3 separate regions of the Homo sapiens genome follow, and all the other regions are linked to region 1. The links come from fine-mapping of genetic effects on gene expression. A gene starts in region 1. Each other region holds a variant in brackets. All regions are shown on one strand. Distances are between the middles of the regions.

Evidence for each region. PIP is the estimated chance that this variant, and not a neighbour inherited with it, causes the effect. A credible set is the group of variants that fine-mapping cannot tell apart.
Region 2: its variant is the best candidate, but not a certain one, in a credible set for the expression of KRR1 in iPS cells (PhLiPS, PIP 0.68).
Region 3: its variant is the best candidate, but not a certain one, in a credible set for the expression of KRR1 in vagina (GTEx, PIP 0.50).

What each region holds. Positions count from the first base shown.
Region 1 is chr12:75,510,481-75,513,249 of GRCh38, reverse strand. It overlaps KRR1 (KRR1 small subunit processome component), which reads left to right and starts at 1,641. Exons shown (of 10, transcript NM_007043.7): 1 at 1,641-1,737. The coding sequence starts at 1,653. RefSeq lists enhancers at 1,674-1,833, 1,340-1,883, 1,884-2,428.
Region 2 is chr12:75,857,854-75,860,622 of GRCh38, reverse strand. No RefSeq gene overlaps it. Among named protein-coding and RNA genes, the nearest start is that of PHLDA1-AS1, 170 kb to the left of the region's middle. The variant T/C (reference allele first, on the strand shown) is at 1,641.
Region 3 is chr12:75,635,152-75,637,920 of GRCh38, reverse strand. The region is part of intron 8 of LOC105369844 (a long non-coding RNA gene); the gene reads left to right. Among named protein-coding and RNA genes, the nearest start is that of KRR1, 120 kb to the right of the region's middle. RefSeq lists a silencer at 1,878-2,172. The variant AAAGG/G (reference allele first, on the strand shown) is at 1,505.

The DNA of each region.
Region 1 (2,769 bases):
ACGTTAGAGAATCTTAGAACTCAATTATTATCCATGTTTTTACACCCCTTTCAGTAATGATTTGGAAAAAGATGTAAAAATTTCAAAAAGGGACAGGTGAACTGTGGGCTCTGCATAGTATGGTAATTAAAAGGTTGGGTTTTACAAACAGACTCAATAGTGCCAAGAAAAGGATGGGTGGGTTTTCGTTTTCCCATCTCCATCATATTCTCAATATTCCTCAAATAATAGCAATACTAAGATTAAAAATATACACGTAAATGGGAAGAAAAGCCTATGTAGAAAATTTTGCTATAAAATAAAGGGCTTTAACACAAATATTATTTCTAGACTATTCCCTCCCCTTAATCCCTATCAGCCCTCTAACACATTTGAAGCTCCTAATGAATAGTAGCCCCCTGAAGCTGCTAGGTCAAACTGCCTGAACTTGAAGACGGGCCTTCCACTTATTAGTGATTGAGTTACTTAAAATAAGAATGATAAAAACCTGCTTCATGAGGTGTACTCCTCACTTTATAACTTTCACCTGCTGCTATCTGTTCTATTTTAGGAATTTATCATTTTTTGAGGAAATTAAAAGAACAGAGATAAAATCCCTGTCATTTATAAAACTCACAGGATAAAAACAAAAAACCCCTCTGTCGTGGGTTCTTCTGTCCATATGTAACAATCTGTTTCATACCTGGATCTCATATATGAAAACCTAAATTATTGTATAAGATACACGAGAGTGGATTTATCAGACAAACGTGTATTTCACTAATGCAAGGAATTTAACCTATCAAAGACTTTCCCTATTTGCTGCAGAAAATTTTAGAAATGCAAGCAATAAAATCAAAATTTAAAAAAATCTTATATTTGGCATGTCGAAGAACTCTTATACTTCCAAAAGTGTAGTTATTTGTAGTTAGTGATGAACCTCTCTACACATCTTAGCCCTATGTAATGTTGGGGGTAGAAAAGGAGTTTAGAGATTTTGAGAAATCTTAGGCTAGTTGAAATACTTCAGAAACGTCAGGATGTTGAATTACCATCCCTCTGACTTAGAGAAATACCAACACTCGGGAAGATTACCATCAGAAACAACTTTGAAAAGTTTAATTTTGTCACTGTTTTTAAAATTAGAAATAATGTAAATAAAGTACTGAAACAAAGTAGTCTCACAATAAATAGTAGCTATTCCTGTCACTTGTTGCAGTGGAGGCCCAATATACATTGTATTCTCATATTTGTACTTCCTCCCAACATCTAGCGCATATTTGGCCAACATATAAATATTTATCGAAAGAATGAATGACATCAATGACAGGTTGGTAGCACTCCGCTGTCCGATGGTCCAGGTTAGGCCGTGAGGCCACGAGGAAACTACGGATAAAACAGTATCCAATTTGCCTATACCGCCTGCTAAACTACAAGTCCCAGTACGCAAACTCCATGGTTTCAGGGCATACTGGGAGAAAGTCTCCGGCTCTTCATTGGCCACGTAGGAGAAGCTGTGGTTTGTGTAAAAGCGCGGGCTTAACGCACGTACGCACGGAGACTGCGCAGATCTCCTCGTCTGAGTTCCGCGGAACTCATTTTGAGTGTAGGCGTTTTAGCCGGTAGGGTTTAAGAACAGTTTCATTTCCGGAGCCACCGGAAGCAGCTTGCAAATGGCGTCTCCCTCGCTGGAGCGGCCAGAAAAAGGCGCTGGAAAAAGTGAATTTCGTAACCAGAAGCCGAAGCCGGAGAACCAAGGTGATGTTATGTGGGAACCGAAGCCTGGGGTTTGTGTACGTTGAGTTGCGATGTTTTTTTCTTTCGTTCCTCGTGGACTTATAAAACCACCTGGAGCCTGTACTGTGTAGTTGAGTACCTGAATAATCGCTGATAAGATTTTGGCTGGGCCCACAGGAACGGCTGGCCGATATGGTGCCACCCAGGTGTTCCTAATTCATTGCTTTTGCTAAAGGGTCCCCAAAGCGAAGCTGTTGCGGATTACGTCTTTTGTAAAAGGATGAGTATTAAGAAAATGCCTAGGGCGACGCAGAACCTTGTAAGCCTGCGGGTGGCTGAAAGTCACTGACGGAATGAGGAATAGGGTGAGGTGGGAATAGGTAGTCATGATATACAAGAGTGGACCCTGATAATGGGGTGAGGTATGGGGAAAGGAGCTATCCGACATGTCCTTAGCTCTAGTTTGTCAGTAAAGACATTTTGAAAGATTATCAATTCCTGTTTGTCAGATGCTAAAATATTAGACGACACAGCCCTTACTGTTTAGGTTGTGTTACCTTTTAATTGTTAACTCCTGCGTTGTAGTCTGGTTTTACCCGTTTTCTTCAGTGTGAATGATAGAGAAGTCATAAATAGCCTGGGGATCTGTTCAACCAGGCTTATAGGAAGTGTTAAAAACATTGAACTCTCAATTTAGATGCATTGGGAAAGTATTCAAAGTTTCTTTGTTGTTGCTCATTAAATGATTATGTAACGTACATAGCAGGGGATACAACTTATATAGAGTTTAATAAAACCATGCGGGAAACTAGCATTCAGACTAAGTAAAATAGAGCATTACCATACCCCTCAAACCCTTACGTGCACCTCTCAGATCATATTCTCTTTTCCTGTATCAGACGTAACCACCCTGAATTGTGTTGCATTCTGTTCCTCTTCTTGTAGTCATGAAGTGGCTTAATTTAGCCTGTTTTTTAATTTTATATACATGAAAGTGGACCGTATGCATTTTTCTGTGTCTTCTTAGATTTAGCTTTTTGTTTTTCAAACAGG
Region 2 (2,769 bases), 350 kb before region 1:
CTACCATTTAGAGAAGTCATTTTACTTATTATTACTATTTTTTGAGACAAGTCTCGCTCTGTCACCCAGGCTGGAGTTCATGGTATGATCTTGGCTCTCAGCAACCTCTGCCTCCCGGGTTCAAGGGAGTCTCCTGCCTCACACTCCCTAGTAGCTGGGATTACAGACATGTGCCTCCATGCCCGGCTAATTTTTTTTGCATTTTTAGTAGAGATGGGGTTTCTCCATGTTGGCCAGTCTGGTCTCAAACTCCTCAGGTGATTTGCGTGCCTCTGCCTCCCAAAGTGCTAGGATTACAGGTGTGAGCCACCACGACTGGCCAATCATGCACCTATTTAGCCCAGTAAATTTTCCTGGAAGAGTCTTGGTATGAGCTAACAATTCATAAATAGGACTGCTTTACGGTGAACTGCATGGCTGCAAGAGATGTAGGGCAGAGCTGTTGATAATCTGCTGAGATCCACACATGGCCCAGCTGGCTTTTTCAGACACTGCCTTCTTGCCTTTGGTATGCTGTTTCAGGGTGTTACACCCCAACCCATGACTCATGACTCAGTTTTTTGACTGGGCAGCCTTCTCATTGTGGTCCTTTGGCTTGGCATTTGGTTATGGCTCTCCTTCTAGGGCAGGGCACTCATCTAGGCCACACTCTGCCAACTTGGATTTAGCCTATCGGCCTCTTTGTCCCTTTCCTGGCTTCCTCATATTTCAGCTCCCTCCCTAGGTAAATGGCCTTGTGGAGTCACAGTACCTAACAAACTCTTTACCAGCATTTGATTGGCTTGATAGCCAAATAATTTCTTCTTTATTTTTAGCTGAGATCTCCTACAGATCAGCTGAGATTACATTTGTCCTAATGTAAACCATTATCCCCATCTCTGGTCCAGTATCCTCATAGGGCCAATTTTCCATTCCTTTAATCTTCCACTCATCTCTAACTTTCACTCTGTTTTATTAATTGAATTAATTAGTATAAAATACTTTGAACAGAACCTGACATAAACATATGCAGGTGGTATTATTATTTTCTTCACATCCTTTTAATAGTATTTTAATAACCTACTTCTGCATTAATGCCTTTTTAACACTGATTCAGTTTCAGATTAGACATTTATGAGTATTTGCTATGTACACAGGTACAGTGCTTGTTGGTTCATGAGTAGTATAGCATTTAATTCTCACAATGGGCTAATATTACACACAGATACATATACTTTTTGAAAACAGATGAAGGTACTAAGGCTCCCAGGGTATAAAGAAACTTACTCACGGTCACACAGACAGCAAGCGTGGACCCAGGATTGGAACCTGACTCCTTTGATGCCATGTCCCCAGTTTTTCAGTAGACCTTGGTGTCTCTCTTCCGTAAAGGATTGTTTAGAAAGGGTTGCTGTTTACAGATTGTAAGTAAAAGGACTAGTGCTATGGTTTTTAGACTTTTAAAAATATCATAAAACCTTTTATTTAAGTGAAATCTTGTGAAGAAGCCAAAATGTAAAACAGCTAATACAAAGCTGCTTGAAGCAGGTGAAGGGTGTCTGCAATTATCTCTATTACTTCCCTAATTCCCCACCCTATGGTCCCTCAAGGCCTGCTGAGGAACACAGTTCCACAACACTGAATTAGTGTAATCATGAATA[T/C]GCATCCATTTAATTCAAATGGCTCTAAAAGGGCATGCCGTGAGAGACTACCATCCTTGCCTGGTCAGCCAGCACCAAATTCTTCTCCCTGGAAGCAATGAGACAGTGCTTCTGCATTCTTCTTATTTCTTATGTGTCTATAAGCAGAAGCATTTAGGTGTCCTCTTTAAAGAAACCTCTTTTTGGTGAACAAATTGATTTAATTTGCATTTATGATTTTCTTCACTTTCCTAAACATCCTTTGGAATCCCAAAGATCAAACCAACATTTTGTTAAGGTGATTTGAAAGGCGGGCCAAAAAAAAAAAAAAAAAGGCGGTGCCTATGCATGGGGTGACTAGCCAGCCCAGTTTGTCTGGGACACTGGATTTTCACTGCTAAAACTGTGTCAGCCCCAGGCAAACTGGGATGGTTTATCACAAACCCCTGAGGTCACAAAAATCGGCCTTTAAGGACCACTAACCAGGGTCCCACAAAACCACTACTCCCATGACCTGGGCCACTTGGTTCCTGGTCTTGTTGATCAGGTGAATTGCAGGTTGTTTTGAGTCTAGTTAACACTATTCCTTTACTCGTGGCCCTGAACTTGAAAATCAATATCAAAGGTAAGCCATTTCAAAGAGATTAAAAAACAACATCTTTTTGTGTTTAAGGCATAGTTAGGATATGGGCACTATCTTTCTCTTTTTCCCTCTTATTCTTTTTTTTTTTTTTTAAACAGGGTCTCACTCTGCAACCTCTGCCTCCTGGGCTCAAGCGATCCTCCCACCTCAGCCTCCCAAGTAGCTGGGACTACAGGCATGTACCACCACACCTGGTTAATTTTTGTATTTTTTGTAGAGATGGAGTTTTGCCATGTTGCCCAGGCTGGTCTCAAACTCCTGAGCTCATGCGATCCACCCACCTTGGCCTCCTAAAGTGCTGGGTCTTATTCTTAAGGTATTTTTAAGGCAAACTAATAAATAAAGATATTTTAAGGTTACCTGTAGATAAGTATTTTTTATTTTCTATGGATTTCATTTATCCTTTATCATTTTTTAGTATTGGGCATAAATGAGACTTAACCAAAAAAACAAAAAACAAACAAACAAAAAAAACCACACACACACACATGGAAACAAAAACACTCT
Region 3 (2,769 bases), 120 kb before region 1:
GTTCCTGATGTGCCCTATAGAAATCTTCCCTACATGTTCAAGCTCCTTTCTGTCTCCAGATGAATAAATCGAAGACGATTCCCAGATGACATTGGCAATTGTGTTTTGCGATGGAGAAGTTTCAAGATGGAAGGAACCAGGGTCTTTGAGTCCTCTGAACTACTCAAAGGAGGATAGCCATACTAGAAATACTCATTGGACCTTTATGTGAGCAAGAAATCATTAAAAAAATTTTTTTTGAGGCAACTGAAATTTTGGCACTAGATATTAAGCCTTACCTTAACTAATACACCCACTAAGATTGTGTGAAGTTGGGGGAGAAGGAGCTCCTCTGGGAATATGAAGATGTCATTGCCATAAGAAAGAAAATAAGTGATAGGCAGGCAAGAATAACAGCCATTCACCACAGCAGCCCCTGTAATGATCCACTGGACACCTTATTTGCATATCAATTTATGAGCCATTAATGGGGGCCCTGGTAGTCTGAGTAATGGCCTCCCAAAGACATCCATGTCCTAATCCCAGAAGCCTATAAATATATTACCTTATATGACAAAGGGGAATTAAGGCAGCAAATAGAATTAAGGTTGCTAATCAGATGATCTTAAATTAAGGAGATTGTTCTGGACTATCCAGGTGATATGTAATTATAAGGGACCTTAAAAATGGAAGAGAGAGGCAAATGAGGAGATCAGAGTGATTCCAAGTGGGAAGGACTTCCCTCGCCTATTCTAGTTTTGAAAATAGAAAGAAGGCAGCTTCAAGCCAAGGAATATGCATGATCTCTAGAAGTTGGAAAAGGCAAGGAAATAGATCCTACCTAGACCCTACAGAAAGGAATACAACAATGCAGTCCTGCTGGTGCCTTGATTTTAGCTGATGCCTTGATTTTAGCCAATATCTTGATTTTAACCTGATGAGACCTGCCAGACTTCTGGTTTGCAGAACATTAGATGATAAATTTATATTGTTCTAAGCCATTATGTTTGTGACAATTTGTTACAGCAGTAATAGGAAACAAATACAGGGACGTAGGCATTTTACTTTAGTTAATTGGAATACGCCAATAAAGACATCTCCCCTTAAGAGGAGAGAGTCAAGAAAACAAACAATTTCAAAGTGCACTTAATTGAAGGGTGGAAGTGTGTGGGTGTGGCGGGGGGTGCAGGGAATGTTGGAAGTAAGAAAAGCAGGGAGAGCAAAAAGATTTCCAGGAGGAAGAGTAGTCTAGATAAAAGCCTGGAAGTAAAAGAGAACTTTAAAAATTTATGTAAGTCATTCTAATTAACAAGAAGACAGAATTTGAGAACGATGATGCTTGAGAGTTGAACAAGGCTAAGATCACGAAGGGTCTGGTAAATCCACCAGGAGCTTAGACTTTCTACAGATGACAATGGGGAGACCTTAAAGGGTTAGGAAATGAACAGACATGGCTAGATCCATTCTAGATGGAGTCTGATTTCAATGTGAATGATGTATTAAGAGGGGATGGATCTGGAAGCAG[AAAGG/G]CCAATCAGGAGTTTGCCACAGAACCTTGGGCAAGTGATGGTAGGAATCTGGCATAGCACAATGATAGTAAGAGTGAAAAGTAGATGGATTTCAGAAATATAGAGTAGAGCCTATAGACTAGATAGATGCCTTTGGCTTGGGCAACAGTGTGAAAGGTGATGTGATTCATCCAGCTAGAAATACAGGATGAGAAGGAGGTAGGTGTAAGGAGAAAGAGTGGGGAAATAATGTGTTTATGGTTTTACTTTATCATCACAATCATCATCATCATTGTAACAATACTTACAACAGTACGATATCAGCTGAAATTATACTGTCATGTATGTATCTGTTTATGTGGTCACTGTCAGCAAACTTCACAAGGGCAAAGGACATCATCTTATTCACTAGAACCTGGGAACGCTGCACACAAGTTCCTTCACCCAATAACATTAGAGGTTCTATTTTGTACCCAAGTAAAACTGAGACCTCTCTGAGAATTGCCTGGTGGTTAGCTGGGGCAGGGAGAGAAGGCTTACTCACACTCAGCAGGAAGAAGGTCATTCTGTGGTCATAACTCAGTAAACTTCAAAGTGCTGTTTGAAAAGGTTGCTGATGGAATACGTTTTAAAAGGATTACTGTATGTATGCAGTAAAACATGAAGGGGATGTTTTGTTGATTTCAACTTTTTTCTCAAACCGCTGAAAAGCAGCATTGTCTCATATGGTGGGGGGGCTGAATTTTCTCATCAATCTCTAGTGCCTAGAACAATACCTGGAACGTGGTTGGTGCTCAAGCGATATTTATTTATTTTTGTGTGAGCCAGGCACTGTTCTAAGGACATAAATTCTTACAGCACTATTTTGAGGTTTTAATTATTCCGACTTTAAGAATGAGAAAACAGGCTGAGAAATCCCACAATTCAAACTCAAATCTGGCTACAAAGCCCATTATTTTAATCATTCTATTACTCAATTTGTGGGACGTGTGGAACATCCAAGTGCTAATATCTGGTAGATAGTTGAAAATATGGGTCTGAGTTCAAGATAAAAATCTAGCCTATAGATACACTTTTCAAAACCATTGGCATTTAAATGTCATATGACAGTAAGTGGGTAAAATAATGTTACCAAGGCAGTGACTTTCAAACGTATTGACTACAGTCAGCAGTAGATTTTTTTTTTTTACAGAGACCTACAGAGACCTACTACACACACAGACACACACAGACATGCACACACACAGATCTCCTTTTACAATTCCTACCCCATTAAATGTGA